Linked DNA regions of Homo sapiens. The protein of the gene in region 1 purifies or fractionates together with the protein of each later gene. This does not show direct contact. Each region holds a gene or a part of one and is shown in the gene's direction. Other genes may lie near its edges.

Region 1 (3,500 bases):
AATGTCATTCACAAATCAGTAAGCAAATTCACTTTTGGCATTGACATGAAGCCATGTAACCACACTGTAATAATAGTTGGTTTTCAAAATAAATTCAGTGCCTCATACTTAACATGATTATACATCTAGCACCATTAGCTTTATTTTATTTTACAAATGCATACTACAGTATATTTGTAAGCCACCCGGGCCTGCCAAGGGAGTTTTTCACACTAAGTAAAATCATCAAGCCTTATATTATGCTCTTCTTGAACTCCTGTTGTACTAAATGGAGCTTTCTTATTTACAATAGGCAAATCTAGTCTGGTGAGCGTATCAGTCTCTGTGTAGACTGCAGGGAGTGAGATGCTAGTTTGGTTTTGTTGATGCTGGCAAAGCATGAGACTGCATAAATGACCATTTCATTCTAAAAGAACCTAGCTGTAATGAGATGGGTAGTTTCTCCTATTTCAACTTAAAGCTTCACTCCTCTAACTTAACTTTTTGCTTGACATAGTTGAGGAATATGGTAGAAATCCATAAATAGGTAAAGGTAGTTATGAAATCTCCCCATGAATGATAATCTACCATTTGTCTTCACTCCATTACTAATTACACAGACATTAACAGTATTTTTTTAATGAGGCATTTGGGGATGTTTTTTCCTCGTAGTTAGAACATAGTTTTAATATATTCAAAATGCACATAAATATGGAGGAGAAATTATCCAAAAAAAAGTAAAATTTATATAAATGCTAATTAAGGTCGTGCATCTTGAAAGGTAAAGCAAATCTTCAGTGATTAAAAGAGCACCCAGAAGACTTTTTTTTTTTTTTTTTTTTTTGAGACAGAGTCTCACTCTGTTGCCCAGGCTGGAGTGCAGTGGCACCATGTCAGCTCACTGCAACCTCCGCCTCCCAAGTTCAAGTGATCCTCCTGCCTCAGCTCCCCCAGTAGCTGGGATTACAGGCACGCACCACCATGTCCAGCTAATTTTTGTATTTTTAGTAGAGACGGGGTTTCGCCATATAGGCCAGGCTGGCAGAAGACATTCTAACTGGGCAGAAATCTCTCCACATTAGCAAACATTTCATAATGCTTTCCACCACAAATGGGAAGGTAATAGCCAATAGCAATCTTAGAGTAATTATTGCCAATAAATTCTTATCCTATCCCAGCTTTGCCAGAGAGAATGGAGGTTGTTTACAGCCCAGGGACTGCATGCACTGAAGAAATAGGTCCAACCTCTTCCTGGTGGCCTGGGCCCATGAGGGATACTTACCAGTCATGTAGCAAGTCACTTTGCTTCCTGCTGCCTCAGGGTCCTCATCTATAAAACTGGGATAATAATCCTTATTCTGAAGGACAGATGTTGTGAGAATGCTTGAGACTGTGCGAATAAGCTTTGTAAAATGTAAAACACTCACAAAATGTAAGGCATTACTATTTGTTGTAATAAGCAGAATGGAAAGGGGCTTTAGATAACTATCCAGAAATTATTTCTCTTAGATTCTTAAGTGTTAGACTAACTTCCTATAAATGTATTCTAAGAATAACAGTCCTATAAGAACCCCCCACCCCCCAACTTTTTTTCTGAAACAGGATCTCGCTCTTTCACCCAGGCTAGAGTGCAGTGACCCAGTCATAGCTCACTGCAGCCTCAAACCCCTGGGCTCAAGTAATCCTCCCTCCTCAGCCTCCAGAGTAGCTGGGACTATAGGTGCATGCCACCACGCCGGGCTAATCATTTCATTTTTTCTGTACAGACAGGGTCTCACTATGTAACCCAGGCTGGCCTCGAATTCCTGGCCTCAAGCGATCCTCCTACCTCAGCCTCTCAAAATGCTAGGATAAGAGAAGTGAGCCACTGCCCTCAGCTAAGAAATCCCTTTTTAAAAAAATGTTGAAATCGGAGGGGTTGGGGTGAGAGGGAACTCTGTGACCAAACCATTCAGGAGAATACTGCAAATGATATTTCTTTCTTAGAAATACTGTAGTCGATAAACCCAGAGCTCCCCAAACTTAGTGAACAAGAAAATCTTTTTTTTCATATAATCCCCACTATGATCCCAAGGAATTTGTGTTGCACAATACAAAAACACATCAGAAAACTCTTAGAAAAACCTATTATCATGAGGTTAAAATAATTAAATGTTTATAAACTACAATGTGGCTTTTGGGAGGGGGCGTATAAATAGAACAAAAACTTACATACCCAGCTGTTGCAGATGATTGAGAGGGCTGGGGTGGTTTCACTGGTGTAGAACCAAGGCTCCCATTTCCCCACTGAACCATGCCCGGGCACGCAGGGGTCCTGGCACTGACTGTGTTTGTGTGCATGCAGAGAGCCTCAGCGGATCCTGGAAGGAGGGCGGCTGCGTGCCTTCCAGCACCAGCAGCAGCGGCTACTGGAGCTGGAGCGCCCCCAGCGACCAGTCCAACCCGTCCACGCCGTCGCCGCCGCTCTCGGCTGACAGCTTCAAGCCCTTCCGCAGCCCCGCGCAGCCAGACGACGGCATCGACGAGGCGGAGGCCAGCAACCTGCTCTTCGACGAGCCCATTCCCAGGAAAAGAAAGGTTGGTGGTCAGCCACGCGGTCTTCTGCATTCAGTTTCCTGAAGGTGCTTTCTGTCCCCTCTGAAGGGCCGGTGTGAGCTTAACCTTGGACCTACACCCCCTTTCTGTGGAAAGAAGCAGCTTACGTTCCTCTTTAATGTTCTTGAAGTTTGAATAGAAATTGTTATGGTGATAATTTAAAAATGACAAATACTGGTAAGTTTCCTGAAGGTATATACACACGTATCCCATCCATCCTCTGGTTATAAATTGCTGACCTGGGACTTACCAGTATTTGTAAGTTAGAAAATTGGACCTCAGGCTTGCTTCGGTATGAACTCGCTCTCTTCGTGGGACTTATTTTTTTCATATGTAAAATATAATTAATATATTTTTCTCTTTTCTCAATCAGCCCTGAAGGGTTATTGGGAAGAATATTTTGTATCTCATTTTTATGCAGTCATCTGTGAAATATACATAAAAGCTGAGATATAAACAAACTTCCATTCTTACATCCTAGAGATTATATATTAACTAAATAAAAAGTGAAAAAGGGCCAGGCACAGTGGCTCACACCTGTAGTCCCACTGCTTTGGGAGACAGAGGCAGGAAGATTGCTTGAGACCAGGAGTTGGAGACCAGCCTGTGCAACATAGCAAGACCCTGTCTCTACAAAAAAAAATTAAATAAAAAAAAAATTAGCTCAGTGTAGTGGCATGCACCTGTAGTCTCATCTACTCAGGAGGCTGAGGTGGGAGGATCGCTTTAGTCCAAGAGTTCAAGACTGCAGTGAGCTATGATCTGGCCACTGCACTCCAGTCTGGGCAACAGAGTGAGACCCTGCTGCTTTAAACAAAACAAAAAGGAGTAGAAGAAAAAAAAGACATCTAATTAATTGATTTAGCAAATTAATTGATTACACATTTGTTTAATCCTCCCAGCAGTCCTATATGGTAAGTTTTGCA
Region 2 (3,500 bases), on another chromosome or scaffold:
TTTGCTACCACCCTCCTGCCCCAACCCCACTCCCAAAGGCCACTGAGCTCTGAAATTTCTGAAAACCAGTATGTACTTGAAAATGGTTAAGGAGAAAATGATTATTTATCTTGTAAGAGAGTCTAGCAGAGAACCTTTTTAAATAACAACACCAGAAATTCAATTCAGGCTGTTTAACTCATTTTATATAGACTTTGGCAGTGTTCTGTGATCTGTTAAAATACTAATATACCTCCAGTTGACATATTTCTGCTTTTTTTTTCCTGGAGAAAAGTGGAAGTTGAGAATAGTATAAAGGAAAATGCTGGAGTAGGAAAAGACATGTACTGGGGGGGCAGAAGGCCTGGGTGACCTTGGCCAGGTCATTTCCTCACTCTGGATGGCTTCATTTTACCCATTTAGAAAACGGATTGGGGTCAATGGGATTGCACTAGTGATTGCTAAGTTCTCTTACAGCTAGGATTCCGTTATTCTATTGTCCTGATCTGAAATCTCCCAGCCAAAGCTTTAGGAAGCCACCTATTCTCCCTGTTCTCCTATGAAGTTTGTTACTGTGAACTTGAGGAGCAGTTGATCTGAGTGGACTCGCCAGTCTAGCTAACATGGAGGGCTAGCTTCCTCTCAGGGATGCAGAGTGTGCTTTGTTGTGCTTTCTTCCTGGAGAAAAGCATGTCCAGTAGTATATACATCAGCTAGGTGGGATTCTTTGGGACAGTGGCATGTGCTGTGTTTGAAAGTCCTTTGACAGAGTTGAATCTGACAAAGCTATCCCAGTTTGTAACCATGTTAAGTGGTGGCTTTCATTAGCCTTAAGCCACTTTTAGATATAGGAGACTTCCTATATTGGTACATCAACATTTTTCGAGTACCTCCTGTCTGCAAGACACCATCACAGTATAAACTTAAAAGTACTTATGACTCACTAATCCAGCCACATGAAAGTGATCATTCATCTGAATAAATAAATAAACAGTTTTCATTATTTTCTCCATGAAAAGGTCTGAATTAATTGATGCGGATTTCCTGCCAGCTTACTTTTATCTTTAAGGATTTAAGGAATAAACTCAAATTCAGAAGTCTCTGCAGAACATTTGTGCAACAGCTGTTTCAGTATCAACAACCCCAAGTCATTTGCTGGGCATTCAGTTTCTGTAAAGTTTTTCAGTGGTTCCTCCAGCCAGCCTTGGAGGATTCTTCATGTCTTAGCTGTTGCTGCCACCTTCACTTACCAGTGTGCCTCCAGCCTGTATTAGAAAATCTGTAGTATCCACCTTCTTGTATGTGGTTCTACCTTGTAAGAACTTCCACATCTTTTTCCACTTTTCTTTGTGGATCAGATGTGAGATAATGCAAGAATTATAAATTGACACATAGAAACAAAGTTTTTCAAAGAGTTATTATCCTACAATAGTAGCTATTGTAATTGTAAAAATAGAGTGTCCCAAATACCGTTGCAACAGTCCCTTGTGTCCTGCTTTCCTCCTCCCCAGGACAGTACATTCCAGTCGACTATAAGTTTATGACTCCTACAGGTCTTCTAAAAATGTCACATCACTTCCTGCTTCCTTGAGGGACTCTGTCTTGTCGGAAGGAAAGTCTAAGCTGTTCTCATGCCCACCCCCCTGATGCCTCACTTTTTCATTATGCTCCTACATGGGCAGCCATCATCACCCAACTGACACTGTACCCTGGGCCTCCTCACTCTTTCTGTCATCCTCCATTGGAAACTCTAAAGTCTTGGCACTCCTACCCATCTGGAATGCTTCCTGTCTGCCTAAAGTCCTCCCTTTTAGTCAGGGCCCTTCACCCTGAGCATCTCTGTTGCAGGGATCTCTTCCTTTGCTGAATCTGTACCATTTACTGTCTTCACCATTCACTGGAAGTTTGGTGTATGATACGCTGCCAAGTGTGATGTTAGCATTCTCTTTGTGTTCTGCAACTCAGTAGTGAGCTTCTGGGAATGATGGCCTACATCTTGTCTTCCATCTATCTCTCCAATGCCCTGCAATGGAAGGAAGCCCCGCAATTCGACAGATACCTATTGCTGTCTCCAAGGAATTGGCCAACTCTGACTTTGATTTTTGTCTCCATCAGGTAAGGCACCTATATATCTGTGATTTTCACAAAAATTTCATCCAGAGTGTCCGAAATAAAAGGAAGAGGAAGACAAGTGACGATGGCGGAGATTCTCCCGAGCACGACACTGACATTCCTGAGGTAAAGGTCAAAGAAACCAGTTGCGGAAGCTGGAAGAATGGATTCTAATCTGATTCTCACCTCTGGCCTGGTCTGCTTTTTGTGTTAAGAAGTAATTTTAGTCCTTTTGTTTTGCTGTGGATTATTTGAAAAGTGAATTATAGTAATATGGAATCTGAGAGCTAAAAGCTTGGACACCCACTGGTCAGACTGCCCCATCATTTTACAGACAGGCACAGAGAGCCGAGGTCATGTATATAGTTTGGAGGCTCTAGTCTAGGGCCCTTTCCAGTAGACCACACTGCTTTTCTGCAAGACGCCCCTGACGAATGCGTAAATACAACCACAGTGTCACTTTTTTTTAAACCTTGTTTATGCCTTTAGAGAGTGTATAATGGTTTGGGAGAAGTCTTTTCCCCAAAAAATGAAGGTGTAAGTCATCAGTTCATACCAGCTCTGATTTTCTCTCACTGATTTCTTGACATCTAGTCCAGGCTGTTCCCAAGGATCCATTTCAAAGTTGACTAAACTGGACCCGGTTTTCTCAACTCTAGCACTGTTGACATTTGGGGTCAGCTAATTTTTGTTGTGGGGACTGTCCTCTGCATTGTAGGATATTTAACAGCATGCCTCAGCAGCATCCCCTCGTGAGATTCTACCCATCACCACCCTGAGTCATGACAATCAAAACGTGTCTCCAGACATTGCCACACCTCCTTTACAAGACAAAATCGTCCTGTGTTGAGAACCACTGCGCTAGACCATGAGACCTAGGCTTCTCAAACTGGAAGGCTGCCTTCCCTTCAGGTGCCCGTGTCTATTAAGTGAGGCTTCAGGAAGGAATATTGGATTTTCTTTCTACTAAATTGTTTTCACTCAAGACTCAGCAAGAGAAGAACCGTTTATAGTGTACATTGAATATTTGACACATGAATATTTCATAAGGCAACCGCCTGTTAGCACTCAGAGTGAAAATGACTGTGTAGGAATAGAAAGAGTAGGCGGGCCTTTGTCTGCAGATGTGGAGGAAACCGTTGAAAATCTGGCCCTTTCCCTCTGCCCCTCCCTGTGTCCCCTTTTCCAATGTTGGTTTACAGAATCTTGCTTTTGCCTTTAACGTTATTGTTATTTTACAAAGAAATGGACGTATTCGATTTCTAAGTGGTTTTCACCAAAAAAAAAAAAAAAAAGGTTTTGAGGAATGTTTTGAAAAAGAATGAAGGACTTTGGCCCCTCATATTGATCATTCATTTTGTTTTTAAGTGCTCTCCACCTGCCTGAAGCAAGAACAGCTCTTTTAGAGG
Region 3 (3,500 bases), on another chromosome or scaffold:
TTTACTATAGAATCATTATTTAGAGTAGTAGTAAATTGGTAAAATACAAAGAAAATGCCATAAAAGTAACTCTTATTGGGAAGCAGTTATCTAGTATTTCTTCCCTCAGCAGAGGGAAGAAAGTAGAATGAAAATAAAAGGTTTCAAGAATCTGGTTATGGTTTTTAAAATTTAAAAAATTTTAAAGTGGCCATGGGCTTATTTATGTGTAGATACCATGTCTTTGATTAACAAGATAATTTCTCATATATATATATACATATATATGTATATATACACACACATATATATACGTGTATATATATATATACGTGTATATATATATAAAATACTATAAATACTTGTATTATTTGAATCTTTTGAAATTTTAAATTAAAAATGTAGTGTGGATCTAATATAGTTTGTGTTTTCTGTAACAGGTACACCTATTAACAAACGACCTGTACTTGGATATCGAAATTTGAATCTCTTTAAGTTATTCAGACTTGTACACAAACTTGGAGGATTTGATAATGTGAGTGTTGTAGTCAAACTGAAACATCTTTTTCATGTAACATGTTTTCTCAGGTATCTGCCATCTCTGAAATTGTTTTTCTAAACAACAAAACAAAGTTTTTCAGTAAAAACCTAAGAAGAAGATAAAGTGGAAAGTACAGCTAGCCTCCTCAGACAAAATTTAAATTTTAAAGATTTTTTAGGCCAGGCATGGTGGCTCATGCCTGCAACCCCAACACTTTGGGAGGCTGAGGCGGGTAGATCACTTTAGGCCAGGAGTTCAAGAACAGCCTGGCCAACATAGCAAAACCCCATCTCTACAAAGAATACAAAAATCAGCCAGACGTGGTGACGCACGCTTGTAATCCCAGCTACATGGCAGGCTGAGGCACGAGAATCGCTTGAACCCAGGAGACAGAGATTACAGTGAACCAAGATTGCACCGCTGGACTGCATTCCAGCCTGCGTGACAGAATGAGACTCTGTCTCAAAAAAAAAAAAAAAAAGATTTTTTTTCATATCAGCTTTCTGATTACTGTTAAATTGGTCAATCTTTCATAAACCTTCTTTTTTTATCTGAGTCACAGCACAGCCATATTGGTGGAAATCCTTCCTGTGTCTCTTTTTCATTAGACAGTATGCTCCTTAAGAGCAGGGATCTGTCTTAATATTCTGTATATTCTTAATCCCTTTCAGAATATAAAGGGATTAAAGCAGGAAATGTTTGTTGAACTGATCTGAAGAAATTATTTTAAGGTTGACGTGATGTACGATACTTATCCAATTGAGAATATTCTATGGAATAAAATACTTTACAAATTTCTGCAGAACTGCATTTATTAGCCTGTATATTTTATGCGAAATAATAAATCCTTTAAAAATGTTTGTCTCCATTTCTTTGTTAAAAATTTTGATTTAAGAGCCTGAATATTTTTCCATTTTCCATAACTGGGTTTATTTAAAAGTCAAATGGGGCCAGTTATGGTGACTCATGCCTGTAATCTCAGCACTTTGGGAGGCTAAGGCCAGGGGATTGCTGGAGCCCAGGACTTTGAGACCCGCCTGGGCAACATGGTGAGACTCCATCTCCACAAAAAAAATTTTTTAATTAGCCAGGTGTGGTGGTGTGCATCTATAGTCCCAGCTACTTGGGTTGTTGAGTCAGGAAGATCCCTTGAGCCCGGAAGTTCAGGGCTGCAGTGAGCTGTGTTTGTGCCACTGTTGCTGCACTTTAGCCTAGGCAATAGAATAAGATCCTGTCTCCAAAAAAAAAAAAAAAAAAAAAAAAAAAAAAAAAATAGTCAAATGACTTAATATTTCAACATTTATAATTTTCTGATATTTGTTAGAGTACTAAAACCTTTATTTTTAAACCAAATTTAGAATTTATCAAGTTTTTAAAAATTCTTTTGAGTCTAGGACCAATAAATATAAAAATATACTCATATATACTGTGTCTATCAAAATGTTATTATATTAACACCTTTTAATTTGAGAGTTTTTGTTTCACTTTGTCCATTAGATTGAAAGTGGAGCTGTTTGGAAACAAGTCTACCAAGATCTTGGAATCCCTGTCTTAAATTCAGCTGCAGGATACAATGTTAAATGTGCTTATAAAAAGTAAGTTAGTATAATTGATATGATTATCTTCAGTATTTTTACCTAGAAAGCAGGATGAAATTTACCTTATAACTGAGGTTAATTATTTCTTTAAAGAAATCAGAACATTTTACTAGAGTAGTCATTCTATGATAGTATTTTCTAAAGTGTATTCTATGATACTAGATCTATGAGAAATTCTGTGAAGAAAGTTTTTGTGGCTAAGTACATTTGTCAAGTACTTCATAGAGGTTAAAAAGCTAATATTCTGAAGTCAAGTAAATCCACATTTGAATCCTAGTTCTGCCAATTATTAACTGTTTATGCCCTAGGGCCAGTTATTTATTCTCCTAAGCCTCAGTTTCTTCATTTGTAAAATGGAATGCTTGGCCAGGCACGGTGGCTCATGCCTGTAACTTCAGCACTTTGGGAGGCCGAGGCGGGCAGATCACTTGAGGTCAGGAGTTCAAGACCAGCCTGGCCAGCATGGCGAAACCTTGTCTCCACTAAAAATACAAAAATTACCTGAGCATAGTGGCTAACGCCTGTAGTCCCAGCTACTCAGGAGGCTGAGGCAGGAGAATTGCTTGAACCCAGGAGGCGGAGGTTATAGTGAGCTGAGATTGCGCCACTGCACTTCAGCCTGGGCAACAGAGTAAGGCTGTCTCAAAAAAACAAAAAAAAACAAAAAAAAACAAAAAAAGGATGCTGCTGTGTGCCCCAGGGTTACTGTAGTGACTAAATGAGATTTACTAAGGAGTCCAGCCTCACACATAAGAAATGTGCAAAAAATAGATGCTATTACTAATACTTTTAATAGCTGTTATTGTTATGACTCTGAGCACAGTGTTTTAAATGAATTTTTTGACAAAATTTTTTTTTTGCATTGAAAAGATTAGAAAGAACTAGAATAAATTAGAATGTTAATATGGCTCAATATCTGAGAGTTTAGACAAAAGAAATGAATACACATTAAAAATAACTCTATAGTTATATTTTGAAATGTTTTCACCAAATGTAATTTCTCTTCATGTTTCCAGATACTTATATGGTTTTGAGGAGTACTGTAGATCAGCCAACATTGAATTTCAGATGGCATTGCCAGAGAAAGTTGTTAACAAGCAATGTAAGGAGTGTGAAAATGTAAAAGAAATAAAAGTTAAGGAGGAAAATGAAACAGAGATCAAAGAAATAAAGATGGAGGAGGAGAGGAATATAATACCAAGAGAAGAAAAGCCTATTGAGGATGAAATTGAAAGAAAAGAAAATATTAAGCCCTCTCTGGTAAATCAGATATTGTTAATTGTCTTTTGCTTTCTTTGGTATATTTTCCATATCCTCTATAAAGTTCCAAAATCAATATATTGTATAATATTATTCTTTATTATTTGTTTATTTTCTTCATT
Region 4 (3,453 bases), on another chromosome or scaffold:
CAAGGCCTGCTTAGCTTCCGTGAGAATAACAGGTGTGTGTAACAACTCATCCTGACCCCAGCGGCTTCTGTGCTCAGTTAGCTAGGTGTTATTTATAATACCAAGTGTGGCTTGGGTGTCTCAGCTCTTCAAGGATTTTGTAATTTGAAGGACTGTCTAAGGCCTCCAAGCTGTCACCTGTCAGAAGAGAAGGAAGCATATGCTGGGGATTAAGCAGTCCCTGAGAGGACCCTGGGTGCTGGAGGCCCAGACAGAAAACTCACCATTGGGAGGTAGAGGTGGGAGCAGTCCTGGGCAAGGGGCCATCTGTTGAGTGGGGAAGAGGCCACTGAGCGAGTGGAAAACAGGGAGGGAAGCAAATAATGGCCATGGCTGCTACAGGTATGTTTTACAAGTCATTTTGAAACCTGCTCATTAGGACGGGATGGAGTGACAGGACTCCTTGTGAGCTGCTAGCCTCACTTGCCTATGAAATTATGAAATAATAATGAGTGCTATAATAGCTAACACTCCACAGAGCTGGCGCCGGGCCCTATTTTCAGTGCTACACACAAGCATATAACTCATTCACTCCTTACATAACAACCCTGTTATTTTTCCCATTCTACAGACAAGGAAACTGAGGCTGAGCAACTGGCCTGAGGCACGGAGCTCGTACATAAGCAGGGCTGGGATGCACCCAGCCTGGCCCCCGAGTGCCACTTCCCACGTACTCTCCCGTGGGCCACGTTCACCACATGAATGTTGGCAGGGACCAGCCTCGGGAGAACATTCAGCACAGGTGCCCTAGCAAAGCACACCCAAGAAATCAACGGCAGTCCTTGAAAAGTGGAACATTTGTAGCCAGACAGACTTCAGACACCCCAGTTAACATATTTAGGTGTCTTTTTGGTAGATAATCTTTAAGAAAACTTGTGTGGTACTTTGCTTAAGCATCAGACGGCCTTTAGAGAGCAGGCCAGCCCTTCTGCGGTTGTCTTATCCTACTTAAAAAGACAGTGGTCTCAATTAGTACAACATTTTTAAAAAGGTTCCATGTTGGCCGGGCACAGTGGCTGCTCACGCCTGTAATCCCAGCACTTTGGGAAGCCAAGGTGGGAGCATTGCTTGAGGCCAGGAGTTCAAGACCAGCCTGAGCAACATAGCGAGACTACAAAAGAAGGAAACATGTTTGAGGAAGAATGAAAGGAATGGGGCTAGAAGTCAGCAGAAGCATAATAACAATCAGAGATAAATAAGGTCAACAGCAAATGATTGAGCCCTACTAATTCATAAGTAAATATCAGGATAAAAATATTTGCCACCTTTTAAAGCTATTCATAGTAAGCTCAGGAGGAATTAGACATCTGTGAACCTCTTTACTTTGAGCCAGTTTCTTAAGTTGTAATTTAAAAGATCCATATGTTTTCTGGCTGATTCCCTTCACATTGTCTTGAGACTCTACTCCAGAGTAGTGGCTGAACATGGCGGATTAGAAATTACATTCCCCTGCCCTCCACTCTGCGTGCATTTTACTTCTTCCCGTGTACCACACCTCATATTCCCAGTCACTCAAGCAGTCTGTTTTTAGTTTCTGCCTCTTGTTAGGACACAATCTCATGCAGAGGAACTTTGTGACTACTTTGCAGGAAAAAGAGGGATAACATCACTCTCTTCATTGCATGAGAATGATGCTAAATCTGTGTGGGGTGCCAAGAGGGAATGAAGGGGGAATGTGAAGTGTGGGTGAATTACTAACACTGTAAAGAATTTGGGTGGGAGGGAGAAGTCTCTAGAATTAAAACATGAGGAAAACCACTGATTAGACCGTGATTCTCACTCCTTAGCCAGGCAAAAGAGCCCAGAGATTACCAGTCTTACTCCTGCCCACTTGCCAAGGCTAGAAACTTTCCATAACTTATGGGAAGACTTATATTAGCTTTGATGAAGTACTGATGAAGCATATTGCAAGTAAAATCCTAAGTAATGCCCAAAACAAAGCAGACACATTGTAGGTGACTTGGAGGGCCTTTAAGAACCACAGTGGCTCATGCCTGTAATCCAACACTTGGGGAGGCCAAAGTGGGAGGCTCACTTGAGCCCAGGAGTTCAAGACCACCCTGAGCAACATAGTGAGACCCTGTCTTAACAAAAAACTTAAAAGCCAGGCATGGTAGCACGCACCTGTAGCCCTAGCTACTCTGGAGGCTGAGGTGGGAGGATCGCTTGAACCCATGAGGTTGAGGCTGCAGTGAGCTATGATGGCACTACTGCACTTTAGCTTGGGTGACAGAGTGAGACCCAGTCTCAAAAACCCAAAAAACAAGAAACAAAAAAACACACCACAGCAATCTCTTAACCAAACTTTGAGACCACTGACTTGGATCATGTCCTCCTAACTCCTCTGTCTGCTGGGGCTTCATGTCTTTTCATGCAGCAGACCCAGGCTGTTCTTGAGTAAACCTTGCTCCATGCTGCCATGTGTCTGGGCTGCCCATCTGTGCTGCATGTAATGAGCTCTTGCTGCTGTGCATACTGACCATGGAAAACCATCAGCTCTGTCCGGCCTTGCCGTCAACCCCACTTAACATTCACACATGCAATTAAAAACCACCAGCTGTTAGACAGGGAGAGATGAGTGTCTCAGTATCCAAAGGCCAGTTCAGCTCTAAGACAGAGGAAGCCTTTTGTGTCTGCCAACCAAGTAACATTCTCTTGGGTCTTTCGATTTGTTTTCCAGAATGATGACAACTTCTTAAATATAATCTATGAAGCCTATCTCTTCAGCATGACTCAAGCAGCCATGAAAAAGACTATGTGACAGCAAGGCCTTTTAAAACTGATTTTCAAGGTCCTTCTAGAACTCCGGCACAAGGTTCTTTCATGTTGAGTGTTGTTTCCTTCAATGTTTCTGCCTTTTTTAAAAAAAAAGTATGTGTAATATGAAGTAAAATGTTTCAGACTTTTTTTTATACTCAAGTGTTTTTTAATTATTATTATACTTTAAGTTCTGGGGTACATGTACAGAACATGCAGGTTTGTTACATAGGTATACACATGCCATGGTGGTTTGCTGCACCCATCAACCCATCATCTACATTAGTATTTCTCCTAACGCGCTTCCTCCCCTAGTCCCCCACCCCGCGACAGACCCCAGTGTGTGATGTTCCCCTCCCTATGTCCGTGTGTTCTCATTGTTCAATTCCCACCTGTGAGTGAGAACATGTGGTGTTTGGTTTTCTGTTACTTTGTTAGTTTGCTGAGAATGATGGTTTCCAGCTTCATCCATGCCCCTGCAAAGGACAAGAACTCATTCTTTTTTATGGCTGCATAGTATTCCCTGGGTGTATATATGCCGTATTTTCTTTATCCAGTCTATCATTAATGGACATTTGGGTTGGTTCCAAGTCTTTGCTATTGTGAATAGTGCTGCAATAAACATACGTGTGCATGTGTCTTGATAGTGGAATGATA

The links. Proteins that work in one complex are often made in the same cells at the same time.
Region 2: the proteins of ZNF704 (region 1) and SAP30L purify together in Homo sapiens (co-immunoprecipitation; 3 studies listed by BioGRID and IntAct, with this or other methods). This does not show direct contact.
Region 3: the proteins of ZNF704 (region 1) and ARID4B purify together in Homo sapiens (co-immunoprecipitation; 3 studies listed by BioGRID and IntAct, with this or other methods). This does not show direct contact.
Region 4: the proteins of ZNF704 (region 1) and DCP1B purify together in Homo sapiens (affinity purification with mass spectrometry; 2 studies listed by BioGRID and IntAct, with this or other methods). This does not show direct contact.

What each region holds. Positions count from the first base shown.
Region 1 is NC_000008.11:80,686,282-80,689,781, reverse strand, and holds part of ZNF704 (zinc finger protein 704), read left to right. Parts: intron 1-2,323; coding exon 2,324-2,556; intron 2,557-3,500.
Region 2 is NC_000005.10:154,448,997-154,452,496, forward strand, and holds part of SAP30L (histone deacetylase complex subunit SAP30L), read left to right. Parts: intron 1-2,094; coding exon 2,095-2,217; intron 2,218-3,459; coding exon of another isoform or gene 3,460-3,477; exon of another isoform or gene 3,478-3,500.
Region 3 is NC_000001.11:235,220,180-235,223,679, reverse strand, and holds part of ARID4B (AT-rich interactive domain-containing protein 4B), read left to right. Parts: intron 1-419; coding exon 420-514; intron 515-2,017; coding exon 2,018-2,115; intron 2,116-3,134; coding exon 3,135-3,378; intron 3,379-3,500. UniProt on the Homo sapiens protein: Acts as a transcriptional repressor. May function in the assembly and/or enzymatic activity of the Sin3A corepressor complex or in mediating interactions between the complex and other regulatory complexes.
Region 4 is NC_000012.12:1,945,553-1,949,005, reverse strand, and holds the end of DCP1B (mRNA-decapping enzyme 1B), read left to right. Parts: intron 1-2,719; coding exon 2,720-2,800; 3' UTR 2,801-2,953; downstream 2,954-3,453. UniProt on the Homo sapiens protein: May play a role in the degradation of mRNAs, both in normal mRNA turnover and in nonsense-mediated mRNA decay. May remove the 7-methyl guanine cap structure from mRNA molecules, yielding a 5'-phosphorylated mRNA fragment and 7m-GDP.